Homo sapiens: one gene and its partners. The protein of the gene in region 1 purifies or fractionates together with the protein of each later gene. This does not show direct contact. Each region holds a gene or a part of one and is shown in the gene's direction. Other genes may lie near its edges. The genes, in order: SCML4, FBXO11, KDM5C and UBR1.

The links.
Region 2: the proteins of SCML4 (region 1) and FBXO11 purify together in Homo sapiens (affinity purification with mass spectrometry; 3 studies listed by BioGRID and IntAct, with this or other methods). This does not show direct contact.
Region 3: the proteins of SCML4 (region 1) and KDM5C purify together in Homo sapiens (affinity purification with mass spectrometry; 3 studies listed by BioGRID and IntAct, with this or other methods). This does not show direct contact.
Region 4: the proteins of SCML4 (region 1) and UBR1 purify together in Homo sapiens (affinity purification with mass spectrometry; 3 studies listed by BioGRID and IntAct, with this or other methods). This does not show direct contact.

The regions. Positions count from the first base shown.
Region 1 is NC_000006.12:107,821,299-107,828,519, reverse strand, and holds the start of SCML4 (sex comb on midleg-like protein 4), read left to right. Parts: upstream 1-4,206; 5' UTR 4,207-4,394; intron 4,395-7,221. UniProt on the Homo sapiens protein: Putative Polycomb group (PcG) protein. PcG proteins act by forming multiprotein complexes, which are required to maintain the transcriptionally repressive state of homeotic genes throughout development.
Region 2 is NC_000002.12:47,826,494-47,833,520, reverse strand, and holds part of FBXO11 (F-box only protein 11), read left to right. Parts: intron 1-450; coding exon 451-557; intron 558-640; coding exon 641-752; intron 753-842; coding exon 843-949; intron 950-1,034; coding exon 1,035-1,172; intron 1,173-7,027. UniProt on the Homo sapiens protein: Substrate recognition component of a SCF (SKP1-CUL1-F-box protein) E3 ubiquitin-protein ligase complex which mediates the ubiquitination and subsequent proteasomal degradation of target proteins, such as DTL/CDT2, BCL6, SNAI1 and PRDM1/BLIMP1.
Region 3 is NC_000023.11:53,215,201-53,222,227, reverse strand, and holds part of KDM5C (lysine-specific demethylase 5C), read left to right. Parts: intron 1-1,311; coding exon 1,312-1,389; intron 1,390-3,829; coding exon 3,830-3,952; intron 3,953-4,261; coding exon 4,262-4,432; intron 4,433-4,950; coding exon 4,951-5,085; intron 5,086-6,030; coding exon 6,031-6,154; intron 6,155-6,251; coding exon 6,252-6,433; intron 6,434-7,027. UniProt on the Homo sapiens protein: Histone demethylase that specifically demethylates 'Lys-4' of histone H3, thereby playing a central role in histone code. Does not demethylate histone H3 'Lys-9', H3 'Lys-27', H3 'Lys-36', H3 'Lys-79' or H4 'Lys-20'.
Region 4 is NC_000015.10:42,942,395-42,949,063, reverse strand, and holds the end of UBR1 (E3 ubiquitin-protein ligase UBR1), read left to right. Parts: intron 1-3,593; coding exon 3,594-3,735; 3' UTR 3,736-6,167; downstream 6,168-6,669. UniProt on the Homo sapiens protein: E3 ubiquitin-protein ligase which is a component of the N-end rule pathway. Recognizes and binds proteins bearing specific N-terminal residues that are destabilizing according to the N-end rule, leading to their ubiquitination and subsequent degradation.

The DNA.
Region 1 (7,221 bases):
GTCTTATCCTAATGAGAGAAAGGACACTTTTTGCCCCTTTGTAATTATGGCCATATCCATAATCACAACTAAGCACTCCTCCAACCCAAAGCGTCATCCTGTTTCAGCAGACCGATGTTTTGAGTTAGAGATAAAGCAGTTCTTAGGCTTGTGAAATGTCAGAGCCATAAGTGACCACAAAGATGATCTAGTCCCTTATTTCCTTGTCCCGTGTTATAGAAAGTCAATGATTTCACCCATGTCATTGGGTTAGTGGTAGGGCTGGAACAAGTGGCAGTGCCAGGATCCATGAGGTGGAATGATTAATTAGAGTATCTTTGGGCACAGACTGCCTGGGTCAGACCTGTGTCTACCACTTCTAAGCTGTGTGTCCTTGGGCAAGTTATTTAACATCCCTAAGTCTCAGTTTCCTTATCTGTAAGATGGGAATGGTATCATAATACCTACTTCATAGGATTGTCATAAATGGGATACAAAATGGGAAGGGCTTCACACATAATTCTTCAGTAAATGTTAGCTATCACTGTTATAACAAAGGTTGTTTCGGCGGTAGCACTGACTGCCAGTCCAAGACAGAATCCTCTCGATCGGATGCTTGTGTTGGAAAACACAACTCTTTAGGACAAAGGCCATTTTCAATGTGAACGGTGTCTTTACCAGCAGCTGACAGAAGGATTACTCTTCAAATGGAGGCTACTCTAAGTAGATTTGCATTTGGGACGCCCCCAAATTAACTTGCTCCCTCTGGTTGCCTCCTGCTAACCACCAGCCCAGTAGCACTCGTGTGGAGAGAGTGGAACATGCTGCTTGTGGTCTGAGACAGAAATGTAACCACAGTGCAAAGAAAATTAACAACGTGGCACAACCTAAGCACCCTTTTCATGGGACAGGGATGTACAAGACTTAGAGAGATGCTAGCTCAGAGCGGTCACTTTTCTTCTTAGCAGGTCCCTCAGCTAATACCAGTCATCCCATCAAATTTCTTTTTTCTTACATGTTTAACTTAAATTTTTCTTGGAATTAAAAACATTTAGGATTTTTTAAAATATTGATTTAAGTTATTAAAAGCTATGTTCCTGGTTGCATGAAGAAAGAAATCCCAGTAAGTTTAAATATATATATTTTAATAAATGTGTGTATATACAGATATATTTAAATAAAAAAATTTAAGTAAAAAATATAAAGATATATTTAAATAAAAATATACATTTAAGTAAAAAACAAATATATATTTAAATAAAAATGTAAATATATATTTAAATAAAAATGTAAATATATTTAAATAAAAATATAAAGATATATTTAAATAAATATATTTACATATTTATTAAATTTATTAAATTACATAATTTAATGAATAATTTATTAAATATCAAATATTTTGAATAACATATTTAAGTAAATAAATATTGTTTACTTAAATATATACATATATATAAAAAATATATATATTTTTTGAGACGGAGTCTCGCTCTGTCGCCCAGGCTGTAGTGCAGTGGCGTGATCTCGGCTCACTGCAAGCTCCGCCTCCCGGGTTCACACCATTCTCCTGCCTCAGCCTCCCAAGTAGCTGGGACTACAGGCGCCTGCCACCACTCCCAGCTAATTTTTTGTATTTTTAGTAGAGACGGGGTTTCACCGTGTTAGCCAGGATGGTCTCGATCTCCTGACCTTGTGATCTGCCCACCTCAGCCTCCCAAAGTGCTGGGATTACAGGCGTGAGCCACCGCGCCCAAGCAATCCAGCTTTTGTTGATTTCAATTTTAGGCTTTATTACCAAGTTGACCTGTTAGATGACAATGGGTGCTTCCCACATGCACCCACCTTGAGGACAAGGACAACAGTAGCCCATCTGGGAGGAGGCAAGGAGGTTGGGCCTGAGGATCAGAGTGAGAAACCCTCACAGAGCTGGGTAGGAAAACCAGCAACTCCTTTCTTATGGGTAGATTCTGCCAACCCTTTTACTTCTTTTACAGGACTTGGAGATTATTTCTGATTACTTAAGAAATGTTATTTTTTTTAATCCTAAGAAACATTTTAGAGTGAAAATTGGTCTAATGTCTCAGCCCATTCCAGGTGCTTTAAGCTCAGTGTAGTGTGGCATGTGTGAGGCCACGGGTGTGAGTATAATAACCGCTGTCGCTGGGACAGAGATGCTGTCCAAACTTAAATCATCCATCTTCTTTCCTTTTCTTTCCTTTTCTTTTCTTCTTTTTCTTTTCTTTCTTTTCTTTTCTTTTCTTCTTTTCTTTTTCTTTCTTTTTTCTTTTTTTTTGAGATGGAATTTCACTCTTGTCACCCAAGCTGGAGTGCAATGGCGTGATCTCAGCTCACTGCAACCTCTCCCTCCCAGGTTCAAGCGATTCTCCTGCCTCAGCCTCCCGAGTAGCTGGGATTACAGGCAAGCGCCACCAAGCCTGGCTAATTTTTGTATTTTTAGTAGAGATGGGGTTTCACCATGTTGGCCAGTCTGGTCTCGAACTCCTAACCTCAAGTCCAGGAGTCCCAAAATGCTGGGATTACAGGCATGAGCCACCACACCTAGCCCATCCATCTTATTTTCTTTTTTTTTTTTTTTTTTTTGAGATGGAGTCTCGCTCTGTCACCCAGGCTGGAGTGCAGTGGCACGGTATCGGCTCACTGTGAGCTCCGCCTCCCGGGTTCACGCCATTCTCCCTCCTCAGCCTCCCAAGTAGCTGGGACTACAGGCGCCCGCCACCACGCCCAGCTAATTTTTTGTATTTTTAGTAGAGACGGGGTTTCACCATTCACAGGATGGTCTCGATCTCCTGACCTCGTGATCCACCCGCCTTGGCCTCCCAAAGTGCTGGGATTACAGGCATGAGCCACTGCACCTGGCCCATCCATCTTATTTTCTTTTCTTCTCCTCTTCCTCCTTCTTTAGTGAAATCAACTTATATGAAATGAAAATGCAAACTACCAAACCTGCCTTTTCCCATACAAAACAACAAAATTTGATGATTAAATGAACTAAAGTAGTGAATTTCTTCTTGCTCAATTAATTACAAGGCTTTGACTTAAAACAATTTTTTATATTTTCATAATAAATTTCAGAGGAGAGATTTCTTATGTACTTCTAATGTGACTCTACACATATATTTAGAGAAACCTCAAGTTGTCCATTGCAGTTTTTTTCACTCTCAGTAACTGGCCAGGTTGTGGCCTAAGCCTTCGTTAGCCCTGGTTGATATTTAGTCCCGGCTAAATTTGTTTGCTGCTCATCCCTAGGAGTAAGCCACATGTTTGTAGAATGGATGTTTCATCTTGTAGGAAATACCTGTGAATATGCCAATATCCCAGAGTGGATGAAATGGGCAATGGGGAGCCCTGCTCCACTTTACAAAAAGAAAGGAAAAGAAAAGATCCCTTCGCCGATATATATTGATTTGCTGCAGAAAATGCAATGGGGCATGGGAATGAATAGTCACTCTTGCCCTGTTTCTATCCTGTGCAGGTCCCACCACGTTGAGGTGGGTAGAGATGCTTACACACACACACATACAGGCCTGGAGCCAAAGTCAGGGCCGGCTTTAATGAACTGTACACATATGTTGTGGGCAGCCGCTGATTTAATATGTACAACCATGGTGTGTGCACACACCTGGATAGGCACACTGCTCTGGGAATCACACAGGGTCTCCTGAACAATGATGCTATTGTAATATTTCTTTTTGTTTTATTTGTCCAAAGTCAAACATTCACTCTGTCAGATCACCAGTGTCTTATAAGCCTGGTGTTGGCCCACACTGCTGCAGGATTGGGACAAAGAGACGATGTTACAGTCTGGTTTCTATGGCAACAGAGGAGGGGTAATGAAAACTGAAATGTTGGAAACACCCATTCTAACCATTGTGACATAATTCAGGTTATTACAAGGATGTAACTACCAAAGAAGCAGAAGTGTCATTACCTTGCAGCTCATGTCGACAAAAAGCTACACTGCACATTTCTCTTAGGCTGCTAAGAGGAAGGAAACACAAAACACACACACACACACACACACACACACACACACACACACACACACACACACACAGAGGCCTCGTTTTCTGCATGTAAAATGTGTGTGTTCTTTAAAAGCCAGTGGTTGGCTGGTTTTCCGGACATGATGTGGTTGAAGCTGTCATCGTAATGGAAATTCATTGCTGTAGCTATGGTAAATCGAGTTTTCTGCCTGTGCTGAATGCATTAGTCTAATGAGATGTTTGCAGCTGGAGCGCAGGGCTGCTGGAGACTAACTGTGAGCTACTAACACGGGTGGAAGATAGCTTTTGCAATACTCGGTTTGCATGTGCTGAAAGTCATCTGTCTTCTGAGTCAACACTCCCGACCTGGTAAACAACCTGCTCAGGGCTCTGGTGAACAAGCTGTAGGTAAGGGAGATGCACAATTGGAGGCGTGCCGTTGACACGGGATCTTTCTCTTGTAACTGTCAGCATGACAGGTTACCTGTTTCAGTTTTTTCTGGGTTGCATGCCTACCTCTATGGCAACGCACAAGAGTGTCCTGCACTAAAACCACTGAGTCCAGTAGGTAAACTTTAGTTCCTCATATGCAAAGTACAGCATTTAATTTATTAACCAGATCTCAGAGGGGAAAATGTAACATTGAATTATATAGTTTATAAATTTGGGCTATATACATGTTCATTACTCTTTAACTCTGCATTTAAATACCTAGAAAGTTATTTTTTTCCAAATGTGAACTCAAGTAACCGGTTAGTTATTTTTTCCCTTCACGATAATTTTGCTTTGTTTTGCTTTTTAATTTTAAAAAAATTGTACTATGTCTTGGGATAAAAATATTTACCTAAAATTTGGTTATTAAAATTGGTATGTTATGAACATGTAAAAGTGTTTTTTTTCCCATTTAATTTTATTTCAAATATCCCAGGTAGAATATTTCACATGTCTTTGTGCTGGTTTTTCCTAATTTATGAGGCATAAATAAGAATAATATTTACTGCTAGTTTCTGGTTTTAATTCGTTTTTTGGGAAAAAAACTGGTGACTATGGAGTATTAGCGGCAGTTTTCCCAAGCTCAAAATCACCTCCTTCCCAGGTGGAGCACTGTGACTTGAACCAGCTTCCACGTGCTCCTCCCAAAGCATGAGGGGTCCTCTCCAGGTTGATTGCTGGCTGGACAGGAGCGGTGGATGAGGCCAGGGTGCAGGCTGCTGAGCTGTTTTGCTGAGTTGAGGTGCTTGAGTCAAAGTTCTTTCCACTATCTGTGATCGTGAACGAGAGGTGTCTCCTCGTGTTGTCTCTAGATTCCATGACGGTACTCATGAGGGTTAGACAATCAGTGGCTTTCTGAGAAAGTGGTTTTTTACTGATCTCAGACACTACAGTACTTGAGAAAGTAATCCAGGCACTTCAGAATCAGGGTATTTGTTATATGCTGTTTTTCTTTCTTTTCAACCAGAGGAACCATTTTTGAAGAATGAGGGATATAGCTGCTTTTTTTCTCCACTTTTTTTTTTTTAAAGCAAAATAGAATATCTGGAGTGAAAGCATAAAAATAACTACAAAGGAATTCTTAGTGTGTTAAACTATCTGGGGGGTATAATATTTGTGTGGAGCATTTTTTGTGTTGCTTGGTAGAACTAGTCTGATAAAATGAGGGGCTGTTTGAGCAACAGCAGCTGGGTGAAGATTACCTAGAAAATCGGTACTGCGTGATCGTCTAAACTCAAAAGGTTAATGTAGAATCTTCAGTTTTAGGGAAATTGGTGGCTTCACAAACTATAACTTTTAAACAGGCTTTTTGACAGAATTTTTAAAAAATATGAATGTGTTTTCTTTAGCTCTTTAAATTGTGTACGTAGATGAGCTCTGAAATATTTTGGTAAATTCATCAGTTTGCTTCATTTGTGGAATTATAACAAAAGTGCAAAGCCCACAAAAATCCAGTTCTTTCATGTATAACATGTTTACATTTCTTCCCTGTGTCCCCAAAATTACTTTTATTTTGCTGCAAAAAAAAAAAAAGAAAAGAAAAAAAGAAAAGAGTAAATGAACGGTAATAGAAAGACAAGAAAACAATAAGCGAAACGAGTAAGTTGCTTTTCATCATTTCTTTGCTTTTGGTGGTGTGTTTTCGAGGCGAGGGAAATCAGCAGAAGCAGTTTCACTTTCTGGTTCTTGACTCCTGGGGGTGAGGGTGAAAGGCTGTCTCCTCTAGCAAGCAGCAGGTAAGCTAAGCAGCTCAGCCCACAGAAAACAAGCCAGACCCAAATACTGTCACTTGCTGCAAGAACTTTTATAATGAGAGTTCAAAACAATATTGACTTTAAAAAAATACTCAGTAACACTTTCCTATTAAAAAATTCAAGCACTACCCCAAAGTACAAAGATAGACTTTTTTAATTTTTAAAATTTGAAATGATGAGAAAATCATCTCTGCTGTTTATGTATTTTTAATCTCAATTTTGGATCTCAAATACTTCAATACTTTTAAGGAAACATAACTGAAGTTCCCTGAAATCATAACAAGGAATGCTCGGAGAGGAATAACCTTTCTGGGAGTCTGGGGGCTTAAATGTTAGAGTGCTTCGTAGGTCTGTTTACAATTTTGTGTGGCCTGAGGACACATCACACATGTGTCCACACATCCTTTATGACACGCACCTTAAAGAACTTTTGGTCCAGGCAGAGGTGGTGGCTGGAGCTTGAAAGCCCTCACAGGGGCCCTGTTAGGGATCTGCAGGACAATTTTCCTCCCCAAGTCCCTGCCCTCGGAAACCTCAATATCACATGGGTAGATGCCAGGGAGCCGGGATGTGCCCATCCCACTCCACAAGTCCTGAAGAGCGTGGCAGGTGACACTACCCCTCATTGGGCTGGGAGCCTTAGGATACCAAGCATCTCCAGTGTCATTCTTCCCCTGAGCCCTCAGATTTTATGTGGGGATGGAATGGGAAAGAAGGGAAAGGAGATGAGAAAAGACCCTCTTTTAATCTGATTATCATGGAGCGTAAAATCTTGTCTAACATTTTGTGGATGAAGTTTGTGAAAGCAGTTGCCTTTGGTGTGATCACACAAGCTTCTTTCTTTTGGTGGGCACATCTGATGTTTCTAAGAAGGAACTTTTAAACAATGCCTCCCTAGACATCTTATTTCTTAATTCTGCCATCTCTCAAAAGGCTAGTTTTAGATTTACACATTTTTTAATGTTTTCATTGCCTTCAAAAGCAGACAG
Region 2 (7,027 bases), on another chromosome or scaffold:
CTTTCTTCCTCTATCTCCTCATGAAGATGGGGAGAATAGATTAGAGCAAATGTTTGTCTGGTGATTTTATTACTTTCTAAATCGAGGCCACTGTTGGAAATAAATTTAAATAGAGGTCTCTTCTCTTCTTGAGCTTCTGTTTCCAGTGCTGCTGCTGGAAACAGAATGGTTTCCACAAGAAACCATTTTTTGTTTTTGTTTCCACAAGAAACCATTTTTTAATATGCCGTTGCATTTTATATTCATAGTATTTATAGTTAAATGTTATTAGAAGTAATACTGTGCATGGATTTGAATATAGCAAAGGCTGATGATGAAACATAGTTAACTGATAGTGAATATTAGTCCCACTACTCAGTACTAATGTTTTTAGTAAGTTCCCCCTCCATAAAGATACCCATCTGTTGAAATCGAATAAAGGTAATATTCTTTAAAATATCTTCTCCACAGCACCTGGGAAAGTGGCAGACAAAGTTATAATTGAAAACACTAGAGATTCAACCTTCGTTTTTATGGAAGGCTCTGAAGATGCTTATGTTGGATATATGACAATAAGGGTAAGACATGTTAAGATTTAAAATACACATTGAAATCATAAAGGCAGTAATTGTTTATTTCAAACAAAATTTTTACTTTTCAGTTTAACCCTGATGACAAATCTGCACAACACCACAATGCACACCACTGCTTAGAGATTACAGTAAATTGTAGCCCTATTATTGATCACTGTATCATCCGAAGTACATGTACAGGTTAGTGTTTTCTTTATATTTTACAATAAAATTTTGAGTCACTGTATGTTGCCCAGTAGGTTTTTACATAAATAAATAATTTTTCTACAGTTGGTTCTGCAGTATGTGTTAGTGGTCAAGGAGCATGTCCCACCATCAAGCACTGTAACATCAGTGACTGTGAAAATGTTGGACTATATATAACAGATCATGCACAGGTATTTTTTAATTTTGTGTGGTTTTTTTCTTTTTAGAAAATGTTTAAAAGCTCTACTGATGTTTGTTTCTGATAACTTGTTGTAGGGAATATATGAGGATAATGAAATTTCCAATAATGCGTTAGCTGGGATTTGGGTTAAAAATCATGGAAACCCAATTATTAGACGGAATCATATTCATCATGGACGTGATGTTGGTGTGTTCACATTTGATCATGGCATGGTAAGAACACTTATTTTTAATAGAAAAACGGACTTCTGTATCAGTTAAATTCCAAGTATGTTTCAGCATTATTTTCTCATCACCAAATTATCTGAATTGAAGAGTATAGGTTTAAAAGCAATTTCAGCATTATTTTTTAAAATTAATATGAAATATTTATTCTGTAAATTTATGCATCAGACATATCCATGTAGAGGTGATAGCGTTCTTAGGCAATATATGTGATCTTTGAGGGGAGTAAGGTATAACTCGTTAATTAAGTCTCAAATGTGTGTTCATAAAAGCCACCCAAAAGCTTTCTGTTTTAAAGAAAATTCCTGTATCCTCCAGTTTAATAAATCAAAATTTCCAAGGATGGGGCTTAGAATATGTATTTTTAATAAACAACATAAGTGAATCTAACACAGTTTGTAGAGTATACTTTGAGAAATAATGGTTTCATTGTTATTTTGCTTTTCATTTAATTCCTCTTGAAAATTTTAAACTGGCAGAACTTTAATAGGAGATACATTGATAAAATACCAATTTTAAAACCATTATGCAGCAGTTAATATTAGGCATCCTTATGGAATATACTGTGTTTTAAGTATTACCTTATAGTTTTACATAATTTTCTAGAGACATGACTTTTTGAGCTCTGAGATCACCATTTCAAAATAATGTTTTGAATGTCTTTTCAGATTTTTTTTCATTTAATGTCAAATTTTCCTTGAGGTAATTTTCAAGTCCTAATACAGCATTGGTAAAATTTTTTGTTGCGGAGTCCAAGATGGGAGAGAGGGTCACCACATTGTAGCAAATAGGATTATGGTGAGGTTTTGTTGCCTATTATACAATATTAAGCAATCCTGGGAATGTTGGATTCATCTATACAAAGAAATTTTTTTATTTTCATTTTTCTTTTTTTTTTTTTTTTTTTTTCTTTTTGAGACCGAGTTTCACCCTTGTTGCCCAGGCTAGAGTGCAATGGCAATGGTGTGATCTTGGCTCACTGCAACCTCCACCTCCTGGTTCAAGCGATTCTCATGTCTCAGCCTTCCAAGTAGCTGGGATTACAGGCATGCACCACCACGCCTGCCTAATTTTGTATTTTTAGTAGAAACAGGGTTTCACCATGTTGGTCAGGCTGGGCTTGAACTCCTGGCCTCAAGTGATTCACCTGCCTCGGCCTCCCAAAGTCCTGGGATTACAGGCATGAGCCACTGCGCCTGGCCAAGGCAGAGCTCTTTTTTTAAACTAAACTAGACCATGGCCGGGTGCAGTGGCTCACACCTGTAATCCCAGCACTTTGGGAGGCCAAGGCAGTTGGATCGCTTGGGCTCAGGAGTTCAAAACCAGCCTGGACAACATGGTGAAACTCTGTCTCTACAAAAAATACAAAAATTAGCTGGGCATGGTGGCTCACACCTGTAGTCCCAGCTACTTGGGGGCTGAGACAGGAGGATCACTTGAGCCCAGGAGACGGAGGTTGCAGTGAGCCAAGATGTAAGATGTGTGCCTTTGCATGGGATTTCAGGCGTGAGCCACCACACCTGGCCAAGTTCATCATTTTTGAAAGACCTCTGGTGATGGGATGGTCCCTTATTAAAGTTCACCATAGTAAGTTACTCCTCATCACACACACACTCCTTATACCATTTTAAAGAATAGATTTGGGCTTGTAAATATCACAGCATTTTTAAAAATAAGTCTAGACAATGCTATAGATAGATATTTCCATTAAGGATTAATGAGATTTATACATTTTAAGATTTATAAAGTATTTCAATCTATCTCCACCCCATCATTTTTATTTTTATTTTGCAAAGGTTTAAAATATTTGCATTCCTACAGTTATTGGTCTATATTTATTCTTTATTTATTTATCATTAGTTCTTTTATCATCGTTTCTCCATTCTTGAATTTAAATTTTGATTCATTCTTGGTATGGCTAGGTTTTGTCATCCAGCCATTTTTTGTTTGTTTTTTTTAAAGAACGCCTTATGGATATTGTAGCTTGAATTCTTGCCATGCGAGAATCCCTATCCATTGCCTTTTAACTTAGCTGAGTTTCTTTCTTTCCCTCACGATTCTGTAGACATTTTTCTATTGTAGCATTGAGCATGGCTGAGAACTCTGAGATCACATTGGGTTTTTTTCTTTCTTCTTTGCTTGAAAGATTGCTCTTCTACCTCAGTATCCATATTTTGGCTTTTGCTGATGTATTGTTTTACTATTTTTCTGTTCCATATGTTCCTTTCTTTAGAAACTTAGCTATCTTTCTGGTTATTTATATTGCTATGTTCTGTTCTGTTTAGTGTTGTGTGAGTTCCTCAAATCTGTGTTCCTTACCATGTCTCCGTGGTTTTGTTTTTCTGCTGCTATTTTGCTTCCAGTGTGGGTGTTGCCTTTAATTTTTACATTTTTTTAATGAAATATTTCTAACGTACACTGAAGTAGAGAGAATAGTGTAATGACTCTCCAGGTACCTATTGTCTGCCTTCAACAACTATCATTTCATGGCCAATTTTGTTTAATGTATACCTCATACGTTTTACTACCTTTTTTACACTCTGGATTATTTTGAAGTAAATACCAGACTTCATCATCTCTTGTAAATATTTTACCATGTGTCTTTAAAAGATGGGTGTTTTTTTTTTCTTTCACATAACCACAGTGCTAATCCACTCCTCAATAATTAGGAATAATTCCTTAATATCATCAAATTTTCTCTTAATGTTCACAGTTCTCCAATTGTCTTTTGTTTGTTTAATACTCAGTTCAGTGCAGAGTTGTTACTTTTGTAAAATAAGATTAAAATGTCATAGCAGGCCAGGTGTGGTGGCTCATGCCTATAATCCTAGCACTTTGGGAGGCCGAGCAGGCAGATCACCTGAGGTCAGGAATTCGAGAACAGCCTGGCCAACATGGTGAAACCCTGTCTCTACTAGAAATACATAAATTAGCCGGGTGTGTTGGTGCACGCCTCAAGTCCCAGCTACTCGAGAGGCTAAGGCAAGAGAATCGCTTGAATCCAGGAGGCAGAGGTTGCAGTGAGCCGAGATCGCGCCACTGCACTCCAGCCTGGGCGACAGAGCAAGACTCTGTCTCAAAAAATAAATAAATAAATAAATAAAATGTCATAGCAGTGCCAAATAACTATAAAATTTTTTGAGGCCGGGTGCAGTGGGTCACGCCTGTAATCCTAACACTTTGGGAGGACAAGGTAGGCAGATCCCTTGAGCCCAGGAGTTCAAGACCAGCCTGGCCAACACTGCGAAACACTGCCTCGTGGTGGCGTGTGCCTGTAATCCCAGCCTCTCAGGAGGTTGAGGCATGAGAATCACTTGAAGTGGGGAGGTGGGAGGTGGAGGTTGCAGTGACCCAAGATCATGCCACTGCACTCCAGCCTGGGCGACAGAGGAGTGAGACTCTGTCAAAAAAATAAAAAAATTCATGGCATATTCATGCCATTAGATTTCATCACTTTAGTTAGAAGATAATAATAAGCTAAGCTTATTATAGCCTTTAGTTACTTGGGGACAACTACACTTCATTGAAAGTCTAAGGTACTAACATTGGTTAGTTCCCAGCACCCTCCTCTTTCTTACCCAGATTTCACAGTATTTGGTAAGTGTTTTTATAGATTAGAGTTGTGGAAGTTTATTTCTATGAAGATAGCATTTTTCTCTCTTTTTTAATCTGGAGAGTTTCTTGTGAAACTCTTGAATGCCTTTTATTTTGTCTTTTTTTTTTTTTTGAGACAAGAGTCTCACTCTGTCACCCAGGCTGGAGTGCAGTGGTGCAATCGCGGCTCACTGCAACCTCCACCTTCCAGGCTTCAAGCAATTCTTGTGTCTCAGTCTCCCGAGTAGGTGGGAGTACAGATGCCTGCCAGCACGCACAGCTAACTTTTGTGTTTTTAGTACAGACAGGGTTTTACCATGTTGGCCAGGCTGGTCTAGAACTCCTGACTTCAAGAGCTCCACCGCGCCTGGCCTACTTTGTCATATTTAATAAAGAATGTTTTACTTCAAAAAATTTATACATGTTGGAACTTTTGTGGTTTGCATTAAAAGACAAAGCAGAGGCTGGGCACAGTGGCTCACACCTGTAATCCCAGCACTTCGGGAGGTTGAGGCAGGAGGACTGCATGAACCCAGGAGTTCAAGATCAACCTGAGCAAGACAGACCCTATCTCTACTAAAGAAATATTCTAAAAATTAGCTGGGCATGGTGGCACACGCCTATAATCCTAGCTACTTGGAAGGCTGAGGCAAGAGGATTGATTGAGCCCAGAAGTTCAAGGTTGTAATGACCTGTGATAGCTCCAGCTTGGGTGACAGGGAGATTCCCGTCTTCTTAAAAAATTTTTTTCAGCCGGGCTTGGTAGCTCTGTAATCGCAGCACTTTGGGAGGCTGAGGCAGGTGGATCACTTGAGGCCAGGAGTTCGAGACCAGCCTGGCTAACTTGGCAAAACCCCGTCTCTACTAAAAATACAATAATTAGCTGGGCATGGTGGCACCCACCTGTAATCCCAGCTACTTTGGAGGCTGAGGCACGAAAATTGCTTGAACCTGGGATTTGGAGGTTGCAATGAACCAAGATCATACCACTGCGCTCCAGCCTAGGAGACAGTGAAACTCCACCTCAAAAAAAAAAAAAAATCTAATTTCTTACAGTTCTGTATTATTGATTTATTTTGTACTAGAGGTATTGCTTAACAAAATAGTTGCATTCTATTAAAATACGTCTTGAAGCAGGCCGGGTTCAGTGGCTCATGCCTATAATCCCAGCACTTCGGGAAGCCGAGGCGAGCAGATCACTTGAGGTCAGGAGTTCCAGACCATCCTGGCCAACATAGTGAAACCCCATCTCTACTAAAAATACAAAAATTAGCTGGGCGTGGTGGCTCACACCAAAAGTCCCAGCTCCTCGGGAGGCTGAGGCAGGAGAATCACTTGAACCCAGGAGGTAGAGGTTGCAGTGAGCCGAAAGTGCGCCACTGCGCTCCAGCCTGGGCGACAGACACTCTGTCTCAAAAACAAAAACAAACAAACAAAAAAATCTTGAAGCAAAATTACATTAACTGAATCCATAATAAAAATAAGTTTTCTTGCAAAATTATAAAACTATAAGTCAATCAATCTTTGTCATTTCTAAAGGTAGTAAAATCATTGTTGTGCCAATGTAGAGGCTTCTCATTTTAAGGTCGTTGAGAAAAGAAAACTTTTTGCTGCTTTATTTTCTTGAAAGTTACTCTGAAACAAAAGATACAGATTATAAACTCCATATTTGATGGAATTAGGTGACATATTTAATCCTTAACCTAATTTATTAATACAATGTGGTAAATGACTGCATGCCTGTGACCAGGGCAGCCAACCAGATTGGAGCAGGTTAAAGCTCCAATAAAGCTGTTCAGAAAGATAAATTGGTAAACCTAATGTAAATGTAAATGTATTAAGAGGTGATTTATAGGAGATGATGCAGGAGAATCGCTTGAACTTGGGAGGCAGAGGTTGCAGTGAGCCAAGATTGGGCCACTGCACTCCATCCTGGGCAACAGAGTGAGACTCTGTGTCAAAAAAATAAATAAAAAGAAGAGGTGATTTGGACAACTAGCAACAAGTTTAGGATAGAGTTGTCACTAGAAAGCTAAGCAAAGGAGAAAAAAATCCAAAAAATTGTGCAGCAAAGAAGTCATATTTTATGGCTCAACTCTGAATAGCACACTAATCTAACCAAAATTAAGGTTAAACTACACTGAAAGGATACAATGTGTGAGTATATATTGTGGGGGATAGAGAGGTAGGAGAGCTAAATTCTGCTGTCCCATAATAGAAGTCAGTGGATAATACCTAAAACTGGAAAG
Region 3 (7,027 bases), on another chromosome or scaffold:
CAGTTTTTCTTCTCTTTCACTGTCTCTCCCCCCCGCCCACGTGTATGCATGTATGTATGAACATTGATGTCTGGTGTAGTGCAAAGGCCTTGGATCAGAGGTCAGAAGACGTGGGTTCTTGGCCCCACCACTAACTCAGCATGTAATTTTGGAAATTTCACTTTTTTTCTCTGAGCCTCACTTTCCCCATTTATAAAATGAGAACATTGGTTTAGGTTACTTTAGGTTGATTTCACCACCCCAGCAGGAGCCAGGGCTCTGGGAAGGAGAGGTCTGCATAGGAGGTTGGAAAGGGGTGTTGGAGAGGGGGTTCTTCACAGCTGACCTTTGGGCAGGACACAGCAAGCTCCAACTTGGCAGAGCAGAGTGTCTCCCACTTTCATGATCTTTCCCTGACTTCCCTCCCCAAATCCTCCCATTCTTTGCCACCACAGTCAGGCATCCCAGCACTTACCCCCACCCCCTGGGGCTTCCTCCCCTGCCTCTTCCTGTACCAGGCAGGTGTATGAGAGAGGATCTACAGGAAGCCTTCCAGACTGGGTGAGTGATACACATACTTGCTCCCTGTTCCTTGCTCTTCCCTGCAGTGTCTATCTCAGGCCCTTTAAACTGAGAGAACAAACATTAAAGGCCCAAACCTTTACGTCCTGCCACAATCGGACCTGAGCTACCCTGCATGTGTATTGTGAGGTGTGGTCAGCCTTAGATGTCAGGTCATAACGGTGACTCCTTTGAATAACATTTTCATTTGAAAACTAGTTTTAATTTTCCATATTGGTCTGGCAAGGAAGCCAGGGCTAGAGTTCATATTCCCACCTCACAGATGAGAAAACAGGTTCAGAAAGCTAAAATCTCATAGCTAGTAAGTAGCGGATCTAGAACATGAACCCATATCTTCTGACTCTAGATCCTGTGTGCTTTCCAGTACTCCCAGGCCTGTGTGTCCTACAGCACGTGCCTAGGGGATAAGGAATTAATGTGGGTGTGGAGAAGGTTTAGGGTCAACAAAACAGAGGCTCCATCTCTTAATTTCTTGAAATCCTGGCACTGTACTGTTGGGTGGGACTCAGGAGAAGTTTCCTAGGGCATGTGCATGGGGCCTTGGGTGCAGACTTGAGGGGCTGCTAGACTCTTGTGAGTTCTGGGGGGAGGTGGGGGTGGGTGGTTGGGTAGGATGTTTGCAGGTTAAAGGGTCTGGAGTGGCTAGAGGTTTGGGAAGGTGCCAGTGGGATTCCGAGCTGCTTTTGGTGACTTCCGGTCTTACACTATGCTGAGATAACTCAAGTCCCTTTCCCCTCTCTACCCTCTCAGGACTGGCAGCCACCCTTTGCTGTGGAAGTGGACAACTTCAGGTTTACCCCCCGAATCCAGAGGCTGAATGAGCTAGAGGTGAGAAGACTAGGAGCTGGTGGTGGGGTTGGGAGAATGTATACCTGAGTTCTAATCCCACTTCCCTTATAGTTTCTCTGGCTGAGGTACTTTACCTAGCTAGGCCTTTATTCTCTCTTCTGTGAAATTGCATTACTTTAGTGTGCCCAGGGCGTGGAAGAAGCTTTAGAGCTCTAAATATAACCAAGAGCCAGGGGCATTTAGCATTTGTGATTTGATAGCCCAAAGGCTGGGGACATATATCCCTTTCTCACAAAGGTTTGCTACTTCTGAAACTCCCCTGTAAACTAGCCTACCCTAGCTGAGTCAACAAAAAGGAATTATGGAACTGGCTGATACCCCTTCTTCCTTGGCCAGCTGAATGTGGCTTCATATATCCAATTCATCCACAGCCCTGTGCTTTCTACTTTGCTTCCATGGGTGCTTGGTAAGGTGGGAGTTTGGGTAGATGGGCAGAACAACACAAGAACTGGGCTCTGTGGAGGCTGGAATGGTTAGAGACTTGGCCAGGGGTCAGGCAGGTAGGATTTTCCTTCTCCCTTTTGTTCTGTACAGGAAGTCCAGGCCCTTTTCATGGACAGGTGGGGTTTTTCCTGCTTGAGAATGCCCTGGGGTAGTGAGATTAGGTTCCCTAAAGCCAGTTCCACGTAAGATCCTGGAGTTTTCCATGGCAGCTCTAGGTTAGGCATATGTTGCCACTCCCTCCCCCATTATTATGTACCCACAAATCTTAATAGATGTCCAAGGGGTGGGGCATTAGGCCCAGGCCCAGCTGAATACTTATACCCTAAAAGTTCACTTGTGTTCTAGACCAGAGTTCCTCAGCCTCGGCACTATTAACATTTTGGGAAGCTAAGGTGGGAGGATTGCTTGAGCTCAGGAGTTCAAGACCAGTTTGGGCAACATAGCAAGACCCCATCTCAGAAAAGAAAAATATATCTTGTCAGGTTTATAGGGGTACAGCTTGGGCAAGATGTTGCCTAGCATGACACAAGGGCAGGTTTTCTGTAGAGGGAGTGCTGACTAATAAGAAGGAGCAGGGATGAGGCCAACTTCAGAAAGCTAAGGGGCTGAGGTTGAAGGAGCACTTCCTTGCCCTTTGAGAGTTCTCACAGCCAAGGAACTGTAGGTTGTTTCTTTCTACAAATAGACCTTAGTTTTTCTCAACTATGAAATGGAAAGAGCTGTCTTTGTTCCCCCTAATGGGATCAGGGCAAGGTAGTGAATGGTAATGACTATCTAGTTCTTCCAAGAACCAGGCTCTCTGACTGGAGTGAGGAGGTTGTAGACTTGGGGCCTATGGGAGTCCTTCTTGGTTACTGAGATTTCAGGGAAGCATCATACATATCTTGTTTCTAGTCTCCTTGGCCCACATTGGGTCCTGGGTTGGCCAGGTGCTAGTGCTACTCTGATATACCATCTCTTAGTTCTAGGCCATTCTGTCTATAGTTATAGCATGCACTTTCACCCTTTAGCCACCATGGAACAAGTTTGGTGGTACATAAGGAGGTGCATGTGCCTTTTTGGAGCTTGCTTTCTCTGAAACATGCCTAGAGCTTAGATATAATTCTGAAATCTGCAGAGGATCTTCACTGGTCCCCTCATTAAGTCTACCCCTCTGGGGTAAGTGGACTGTGCAGTTATTTTCCTTTTATAATTATTAGTAAAAGGAAAAAGGAGTCCACAGTGGAACTGATTTGCTCAAGGCAGCATAGCAAATCAGTAGCAGAGGGAGAGCCAAAGCTCAAATTATTTGGCACCAAAATATCTTGATGCTTGCTGTGTGTCCTAACTCCTCTGAGCCTCTGTTTCCTCATCTGTATAGGAGATGATAATACTCACATGACCTTGTCAGGGAGATTAGAGGACATATCTAAAGCTTTTGGCAGTTGTGACCCTCTCTATTGGGACCTTGGGCTTCTCTGATTGACTGGAAGGTGACAAATGAGAGAGAGGTGGCTGGGTGCAGTGGTGCAGTGGCTTGTGCCTGTGATCCCAGCTCTTTGGGAGGCCGAAGTGGATGGATTGCTTGAGCTTAGGAGTTTGAGACCAGCCTGGTAACATGGTGAAACTTCATTGCTACAAAAAATACAAAATTAGCCGGGCGTGGTGGCGTGCGCCTATAGTTCCAGCTACTCAGGAGGCTGAGGCAGGAGGATCACTTGAGCCCAGGAGGTCAAGTCTACAGTCAGCCGTGATTGCACCACTCCATTCCAGCTTGGGCGACAGAGCAAGACCGTCTCAAAAAAACAAAAACGAAAGAAATGAGAGTGAGGTGGGGCTAAGCACTGCCTAGAGTCTGGGATCCGGTTCATTGGGAGAAACCCTGGGTAGTGAAAGTGTGGAGTGCTGTATTCCTCTGTTCTCCCCTAAGACTGGACCCAAAGATAGTGGTCAGTGGGAGGGGGTGGCCAGCCTCTTTGAGCCATTTCTTCTTCAGGCCCAGACGAGAGTGAAACTGAACTACTTGGACCAGATTGCCAAATTCTGGGAAATCCAGGGCTCCTCCTTAAAGATTCCCAATGTAGAACGGCGGATCTTGGACCTCTACAGTCTCAGCAAAGTAAGAACAGGTTTTTGTCAAGCACCCCTCCCACCAAACCCCAATATCCTTGATACTCTGGGGGCCCCCTTAGTTTGGATATTAGATCTTTAGGCTGCAATGGAAGGGGCACAGCTTGGTAGCACACAAGCTGTCATCAGAACATCTTGGAATCTTTTGCTGCAATTTGAGGTTGGGATAAGGGGATAGCCCCCAGTGAAGTGAGGGACTAGAGTTGCCCTCATTGCCCTTTTGCCCTTTCTACAGGCCTACTCCCTCACATATAAATACACGTGGCACATCCATGTCTTTTCCTACTTGTTTTTTCAGATTGTGGTGGAGGAAGGTGGTTATGAAGCTATCTGCAAGGACCGTCGGTGGGCTCGGGTAGCCCAGCGCCTCAACTATCCACCAGGCAAAAATATTGGCTCCTTGCTACGCTCCCACTACGAACGCATTGTTTATCCCTATGAAATGTACCAGTCTGGAGCCAACCTTGTGGTAAGGATGTCACAGTGGGGCAGGGTGCGGCTTTACCCTTCAGCACAGATTTCCACACTTGCTCTTAATGAAACTGGTTTAGTGGACTGGAGACCTGGGAGTTGGACTCTGCTCTTTCCTAGTGATGCTTATTCTCTTTCTACACTGCTCAGGGTCAGAGGTCCTGGAGTTATCTGTACGGCTAGCTTATTTGTTATGTGACAAAGTTTTAACTGATAGAGAAATCAGAGAAGGGAGAGCTTGGGCTAGAAGGTGTGGGAAGAGATGGCGTCTGATTTAGTTGGGGAGATGGTTGGTGGAGGAAGTGACTGGAAGGGAGGAGTGATACAAGCAAAGGTACTGAGAATTCCCAAAATGTGTGCTGGTGTCAGTGCTAAAGACCAGTGGAACAGGGGCTGTTGGTGTGGGTCAGGTGAGTGGACCACAGCTTTGGATGCCATTGGGTGAGGGTAGAGGGAAGTTATTGCTTTTGCGGGCTGGAGTCCATGTCCTGACCCTTACCCCTTACCTGTCCCCAGCAGTGTAACACACGTCCATTTGATAATGAGGAGAAGGACAAGGAATACAAACCCCACAGCATCCCCCTACGACAGTCTGTGCAGCCTTCCAAGTTCAACAGCTATGGCCGGCGGGCCAAGAGACTGCAGCCTGATGTGAGTACTCCCCTTCTTCGAACTTAGAGCTTTGAGGTGGAGGGAGTCCTCTCCTTCCTTCTGGCTAAGGCTGTGTTCCCTGTTCCATTATCCCTTCTTTTGTTCTCTGAGTTCTTCTGAGCATTAGTGTGCCTCTCTCTGGCTTCACTCTTGCTTTTTTCTCCCCTCTCAGCTGAGCTGCTGAGCTGGGTCTTGATCTGTTTGTGCAACCTCTTTTGTATGTCTGCTCTTCTTGCCTGTTTTGTTCCTTTCCGGACTTACTCTGCTCATAGAAGTAGAACTCTTCTTTCTCTTTATACCTGTATCTTTTGTTTTGTTTTGTTTTGAGGCATAGGGTCTTGCTATGTCGCCCAGACTGGAGTACAGTGGCTATTCACAGGCTTGATCATAATGCACTATAATCTTGAACTCCTAGGCTTGAGTGATCCTCTCACCTCAGCCTCTGGAGTAGCTAGGACTACAGGTGTGTACCACTGTTCCCAGCTCCTTGTAGCTATGTCTTCAGGCAGAAGCTTATGTGCCAGGCATTCTTGGCACTGGGAATACAATAGAGAACAAGATGGACACTGTCCCTGGGCTCATCGAAGCATGTAATTTAGCAGATCCTATTAGACTGCCATTTGTTGGTAATGCCAAACACTGTTAGCTTTTTCATATGTATTGTCCCTAACCCCCCTCATAACTATAAGGGAGGAGGTAATATTCTCATTTTACAGTTGGGAAAACTGAGATATCCTGTCTTTTATTCCTTTCTGAGAGAGGGCCGAGGGGGCAGCTCACCTACCCTCAGTCTCCAAAAAGCAACTCTGAGTTCTTGGCTTAGCCCATCTGTGCCTCAGCCCTCAGCATGAGATCAGGTGATATGTAGTCCGAGTTACTGTTCTTTTAGGATGGGACAGTCTGCCCCAGATAGCAGTCTTGATTCATTTCCTTCTTTCCTTCCAGCCGGAACCCACAGAGGAAGACATTGAGAAGAATCCAGAGCTGAAAAAGCTACAGATCTATGGGGCAGGCCCCAAGATGATGGGCCTGGGCCTCATGGCCAAAGACAAGACTCTGCGGAAGAAAGGTAAGGCCTAACAGGCTGGGGTGGCCTCACCTGGGGAGAAAAGTCAGGGCCCTAAGTGTCCTAGACCTGTGTTTACAGCCATTTTTCTCTCTCCCAGATAAGGAGGGGCCTGAGTGTCCCCCCACAGTAGTGGTGAAGGAGGAGTTAGGTGGGGATGTGAAGGTGGAGTCAACATCGCCTAAGACCTTCCTGGAGAGCAAGGAGGAGCTGAGTCACAGCCCAGAACCCTGCACCAAGATGACCATGAGGCTACGGAGGAACCACAGCAATGCCCAGTTTGTAAGGACCCAGCCCTGACTTCTTAATGCTCTGCTTCTTGTCCCTTCAATAAGCATTCCCCTGCATGGCACTGGACCAGTTCGCATTAACCACAAAAGCGGGCCTCCATGGGCCCTGCCCTCAGGTAGCTCACTTAATTGGGGAAACAAAGCCAACTCATATGGAACAAAGAGCAAGAAAGGGTGATCAAGTGCTGTCAACATGAAGTGCTGGAAGGGTCCAGAGAAGGAGTCTCACTCTCCATTGCTTCAGGATAAAGGCTAAGCTCCTCATTACCATGCATGATCCAGTCCCTGCTGACCTCTAGCCTCATCCCCCAGCACTGCCCACCTCACTCCTCTGCTATAGCCACACTGAACTCCTTGTAGGTATGTTCATTTTTCCCCGTAAGATGCAGTATGCTCTTTCATCCCTATCCTTTGCACATGTTGTTTCTTCAGCCTGGAAGAGATTCCCCCTGTGCTCTGCCCTGTTGCCATGTTTTGTTTTGCCTTCAGGTTTCAGCCAGTTTCAGGTGTTACCTTTTCAATGAAGTCCTTTCTCAAGGCCATCCCTCCTTATCTCCAGCTGCTTTGAGTGCTTCCTTCTCTAGGC
Region 4 (6,669 bases), on another chromosome or scaffold:
TTTTCTTAATCCAGTCTATCGTTGTTGGACATTTGGGTTGGTTCCAAGTCTTTGCTATTGTGAATAGTCCCGCAATAAACATACGTGTGCATGTGTCTTTATAGCAGCATGATTTATAGTCCTTTGGTTATATACCCAGTAATGGGATGGCTGGGTCAAATGGTATTTCTAGTTCTAGATCCTTGAGGAATCGCCACACTGACTTCCACAATGGTTGAACTAGTTTACAGTCCCACCAACAGTGTAAAAGTGTTCCTATTTCTCCACATCCTCTCCAGCACCTGTTTCCTGACTTTTTAATGATTGCCATTCTAACTAGTGTGAGGTGGTATCTCATTGTGGTTTTGATTTGCATTTCTCTGATGGCCAGTGATGGTGAGTATTTTTTCATGTGTTTTTTGGCTGCATAAATGTCTTCTTTTGAGAAGTGTCTGTTCATGTCCTTTGCCCACTTTTTGATGGGGTTGTTTGTTTGTTTCTTGTAAATTTGTTTGAGTTCATTGTGGATTCTGGATATTAGCTCTTTGTCAGATGAGTAGGTTGCGAAAATTTTCTCCCATTTTGTAGGTTGCCTGTTCACTCTGATGGTAGTTTCTTTTGATGTGCAGAAGCTCTTTAGTTTAATTAGATCCTATTTGTCAATTTTGGCTTTTGTTGCCATTACTTTTGGGGTTTTAGACATGAAGTCCTTGCCCATGCCTATGTCCTGAATGGTAATGCCTAGGTTTTCTTCTAGGGTTTTTATGGTTTTAGGTCTAACGTTTAAGTCTTTAATCCATCTTGAATTAATTTTTGTATAAGGTGTAAGGAAGGGGTCCAGTTTCAGCTTTCTACATATGGCTAGCCAGTTTTCCCAGCACCATTTATTAAATAGGGAATCCTTTCCCCATTGCTTGTTTTTCTCAGGTTTGTCAAAGATCAGATGTAGATATGCAGCATTATTTCTGAGGGCTCTGTTCTGTTCCATTGATCTATATCTCTGTTTTGGTACCAGTACCATGCTGTTTTGGTTACTGTAGCCTTGTAGTATGGTTTGAAGTCAGGTAGCGTGATGCCTCCAGCTTTGTTCTTTTGGCTTAGGATTGACTTGGCAATGCAGGCTCTTTTTTGGTTCCATATGAACTTTAAAGTAGTTTTTTCCAATTCTGTGAAGAAAGTCATTGGTAGCTTGATGGGGATGGCATTGAATCTATAAATTACCTTGGGCAGTATGGCCATTTTCACGATACTGATTCTTCCTACCCATGAGCGTGGAATGTTCTTCCATTTGTTTGTATCCTCTTTTATTTCATTGAGCAGTGGTTTGTAGTTCTCCTTGAAGAGGTCCTAAACGTCCCTTGTAAGTTGGATTCCTAAGTATTTTATTCTCTTTGAAGCAATTGTGAATGGAAGTTCACTCATGATTTGGCTCTCTGTTTGTCTGTTATTGGTGTATAAGAATGCTGGTGATTTTTGTACATTGATTTTGTATCCTGAGACTTTGCTGAAGTTGCTTATCAGCTTAAGGAGATTTTGGGCTGAGACAATGGGGTTTTCTAGATATACAATCATGTCATCTGCAAACAGGGACAATTTGACTTCCTCTTTTCCTAATTGAATACCCTTTATTTCCTTCTCCTGCCTAATTGCCCTGGCCAGAACTTCCAACACTATGTTGAATAGGAGTGGTGAGAGAGGGCATCCCTGTCTTGTAGCACATAATTTTCAACAACTTCTCCAAAATTTGAAGGTAGTGTTTCCCCAAAATTTTTAAAGACACCAGCCATCTTAATGTTTCAGTGTTCTATTGTTTGTAATCAACCTTTCTTCAGAACTACTTAAAAGGATTGACACTGATAGTATAAGTTTGTAGTGTCCAGTGATGAAGTTTGTTTTAGAGATATTGTTTCCATTGCAATACTTGAAACTTTTTTTTTCTTTGTTTTTTGAGACAGTCTCTCACTCTGTCACCCAGGCTGGATCTCGGCTCACTGCAACGTCTACCTCCAGGGTTCAAGCGATTCTCCTGCCTCAGCCTCCCAAGTAGCTGGGACTACAGACATGCACCACCACACCCGGCTAATTTTTTTTGTATTTTTAGTAGTGACGGGGTTTTACTGTGTTGGCCAGACTGGTCTCGAACTCCTGACCTCAGTTGATCTGCCCACCTTGGACTCCCAAAGTGCTGGGATTACAGGCATGAGCCACTGCACCCAACTGAGACTTTTTATTAGCCAGCTATATCAGCCTTCTTTCCTTCTGAGCATTAACAAAATATTTAGAATCCTGAACTTTTCTGTATCCTTCCCTGGTGGTAGGAACTGGGGTCCTACTGATGACTTATGAAAATGAGGAGACTGACAGTGATCTCAAAAGTACATATAGATAAAGATTAGACCTCCTTACAATAAACTCTTTTTGGTTCACTGAAATTTTGTTCCTTTGAAATATTGCTCAGAAAGAATACACTTATTAGATGGGGCTTGGGACCTTGGATCACACAGAGCTTTCTTTTTATTGGGATGACATTTGACCTGTCTTTAGGTTTAGGGAGAAAAGCAGAGTGGTGAAAGTAGTTAATGACTGAGAATCTTAGTTGTTCCACAAGGGTACAAAGCAGAGTTTTAACATTAATTTGGCAGTTTAAAAATCCCCAACCAGGCGGCCGCGGTGGTTCACGCCTGTAATCCCAGCACTTTGGGAGGCCGAGGCGGGCGGATCACGAGGTCAGGAGTTCGAGACTAGCCTGGCCAACATTGTGAAACCCCGTCTCTACTAAAAATACAAAAACAATTAGCCAGGTATCGTGGCGGGCACCTGTAATCCCAGCTACTCTGGAGGCTGAGGCAGGAGAATTGCTTGAAACTGGAAGGCAGAGGTTGCCCTGAGCCGTGATCGTACCACGGCACTCCAGCCTGGGCAAAAAGAGCGAAACTCCATCTCCAAAAAACAAAAACAAAAACAAAAAAAATCCCCAACCAGCTGAGAGACTTGAATGTCTCAAGGAATTAGGATCTCACAGTTCTCCGTTACTGGCAACAGCCAGACTTAAGTCATTTTGGATTAGCTGTTATACAGTGTTAAAAACTGTGCAACTCTAGAATTGAAGTATAATTATTTTATTAAATTATTTGCTAATAACCAGCCAGTTTTTTGTATCGTAAGGACAGTTACAACCAAATATCTCTGAGTAGCAAAATATAATTTTAGGGCCTAGTGTTATACGTCAGGCCTAACCTCTACTGTGCAAAGATCATAAATTGAAGCTAGATAACAATATGAAGCCAAAAAGCTATTCAAGCTAACCACCAAAAAAGAATAGTGCTGCTTCAAGTTATAAACCTCAGTGACCATTTAAGTGAGGTCCCATAATGCCATAATATACCTGACCTATTTTATGAATGGTCAAGGAGTACATTTCTGCTTTATTAGCTAAGTAGCCTGTCAAGTTCTTAGTGATCAATGGTGAAGGGAAAATATCCCTTTTTAAGCCCTGTGCTGGTGAGTCCTCCCGGCTCCAGGAACATCTCAAGAGTGCATACTAATTTAGACAATAAAGATGTGGCAGTTACTAGATTCAAACTTACATGTTGTTTTTTCTTTTTTCCCTAAAGGAGGGGCAACCCCCTTCATTTATCTCGTGAGCGGTATCGGAAGCTCCATTTGGTCTGGCAACAACACTGCATTATAGAAGAGATTGCTAGGAGCCAAGAGACTAATCAGATGTTATTTGGATTCAACTGGCAGTTACTGTGAGCTCCAACTCTGCCTCAAGACAATCACAAATGACGACAGTAGTAAAGGCTGATTCAAAATTATGGAAAACTTTCTGAGGGCTGGGAAAGTATTGGAGGGTCTTTTGCTCCATGTCCAGGTTCACTTACATCAATAAAATATTTCTTAATGGAGTATTGCTTTCAATTAGCAAACATATGCTTCACAGGAAAAAAGGACATAGATCAATCTGTTTTATGTGCTAGTATTTCCAGGAATTTATTCCCCTTCATAATTTGTCTCATTTCATTTTATTTCATCCACTTGGTAGATGAAGTCACGTCAAACAGTTGTAGACATTTTATATGTTGGTTAACTCTTCTGCAATTTTGTATTTGGTGTTTTCCCCCCAAGTTTAGTTCAACTGACATTGGATCACTGACAAAATTCTAATAATCTGTGATAGTCTTCCTTGCAGTTAAAGAAGAATTGCAGAAACCATGCAATATACTTGGGAAAGATTCCAAAAATAAATTTTTTATTATTTCTCTTTTAAGGAAATACCCCTAATGTGCCACCTGCTGCTATCACCACAAATTAAACTCAATCTCTATGTGGACAGAGGATGATTTCTGCCAATATGGAAAAGCTTTTTTCTCACTGTAGGCCTCAAGAAAAGTTAGGGTAATGTATTTGTTATTCATTCCTGACGGTACAAAGAGCTTGCAGTTCTCACCTCTGACTACCAGTAGCTTTGTTGAGTTTTGAAATAATACTTGACATTTTCCAAAGGCAAATCTCATTCTGCAAGGAGATTGTGGCACCATCCTGTTTGACTCTCAGAAACCTCTTGTAATTCTGATGTAAAAACTGTAGAATGAAGATGAGAAAATTCTCGCAATGAGTGGATCATGACAACTGTAAATTAGAACAATCAGATTTAAACCAATTCCGCAGTCTTCTATATCTTTGTAAAAGACAAATCCTTGATGTTGTCTGTGTGCAACCTTTTCATAAACTCTGGTTTTATGACTAGTACAAACCACCAAAAAAGCCATGTGATCAATAGTCTGTGTCCTGTTATAACATGCTGTGGTTGAGCCATCTTGTTTATAAATAATAGAGCTCTCCTGAATTTGTGCATAGACTTCTTGGTTCCTGGCTTTTGTTTTTTGTATCAAGAGATTGTGATATAAAACAGCAGAAGATAAATGGAAACCTTCCATTTTAACTTACGTTGTTTCTGGGGTAATGTTAGAACCTTGAAAGATGCATTCAAAGACTGTATCTTATTTTGCCCTTGGCTATTAGTGTCTCACATATGTGTGTAAATGTTTTCCTACCTTCTTTTTGCTCAGCAAAGGCAAGCAAGTAAAATATATTTGCTAAGTGATTAGTGATGCACATTTGGGGCTAGATTTTTTTGGTACTTTTATGTAAAGAAAAGTGGATTTTGCAGTAAGGGATTGGCATGAGCAGGCGTCAGAATCACAATCATGATTTTCTACTTGAATAATTACAATTCAGAAGGTATCTGGATAAATAGATACATGTCTAGTGAACAATTTGTAACAATAACAGGTAAGGATCAGGAAATTCAGTATTCAGTTTGTCAGATTTGCCAGAATGATGAAAGTATTTGAACATGTGTGTTTGTTTCTTATATAATTGTATTGAGTGGATTGTTTGACTGGGAAATCTGGGCTAGAATAGGAAACAGAAGATACTGACTTCTACCCTAATAGATGGGCCCCAATTTAGCAAAGATAAACTGACTTTATTTTTAGTCCTTTTTATATTAACTTAATAAATTCTGGAGTTAGGCTCTCAAGAGGACAGAGGGACTGTCTGGCAATGGCCAGCCAGACCTTTACTGCCAAAGAACCCATTTCATATTGCGTTCCACTGATTGAGATTGATTCAGATTTTTGCACTGTAGATGAGCGTATGTCTCAGTGCTGCCCCAAGCCCCAGGGATTTCTCATTATGTTCAAATGTCCTAGTGATTTACCTTAATCATTGCAAACAATTATGCTTATGAAGTTTACTTACAAACAAGCAACTGAGTCACTTTATTTTCTTTAGTGTAGTATGTGAAGGCACTGGTTCAACAGGATGGCTCCAGAACTGTGTTTTTCTAATGTTTGGTAAGGGGCTAGTGAGAATTTTAATGATATGGTGAAGAAAAATATATCTGTATAATTAATTTATTATATTGGTGTATGGGCTGTGAGTTCACCTTTTAGTGGTCATTTGTCATTTCATAACAACTATGCATTTTGGTTCACTGTGATGATGATCTATATTTAGTGACTGCAACATGTTTATACCACTGATTCAAATTCCATCCATGATGAAGTTATACAAATAATGCATATATTGATAACTTTTATTGCAAAAATGTAAATTTAAAACTTGTATAATGTTCTTGTGCTTTTTAAAATAAAATATATGTGTATATTTAAAAAGAAAAATAGGGACTTCTCATGTTTGGGGATTTGGGTTTGAAGTATAAAAATCTGCTAGGAAGACTCTCCAGTTGAAACCTTTGTCAGCCGAGGCAAATGTTTTAAAAGACATAGGTGTTTAGTATACATGGGTCTCCAAACTTTTTAGCCATATACTCCATCAATAAATAGTTTTTAGCATGCATACCAAATAGAATATAAACACATAACACATATTTTATATTCTATATGCAGTGCTTTACTAATACATCATGCAAATTATAAAACATAGCTTTAAAAGGAGATTTAAAAATCAGTTAAAAATAGAAATAGATATTTAAATATCTTCCAATCCAATCTGCATCCTTTTGGGTATGCACGCTCTAATATGGAGACAGCTGTCTAGAGCAGCAGTATCCAGAAGAGTTTTGCAATAATAGGAATGTTCTGGCCGGGCGCAGTGGCTCAAGCCTGTAATCGCATGACTTTGGGAGGCCAAAGTGGGGGGATCACGAGGTCAGGAGATCAA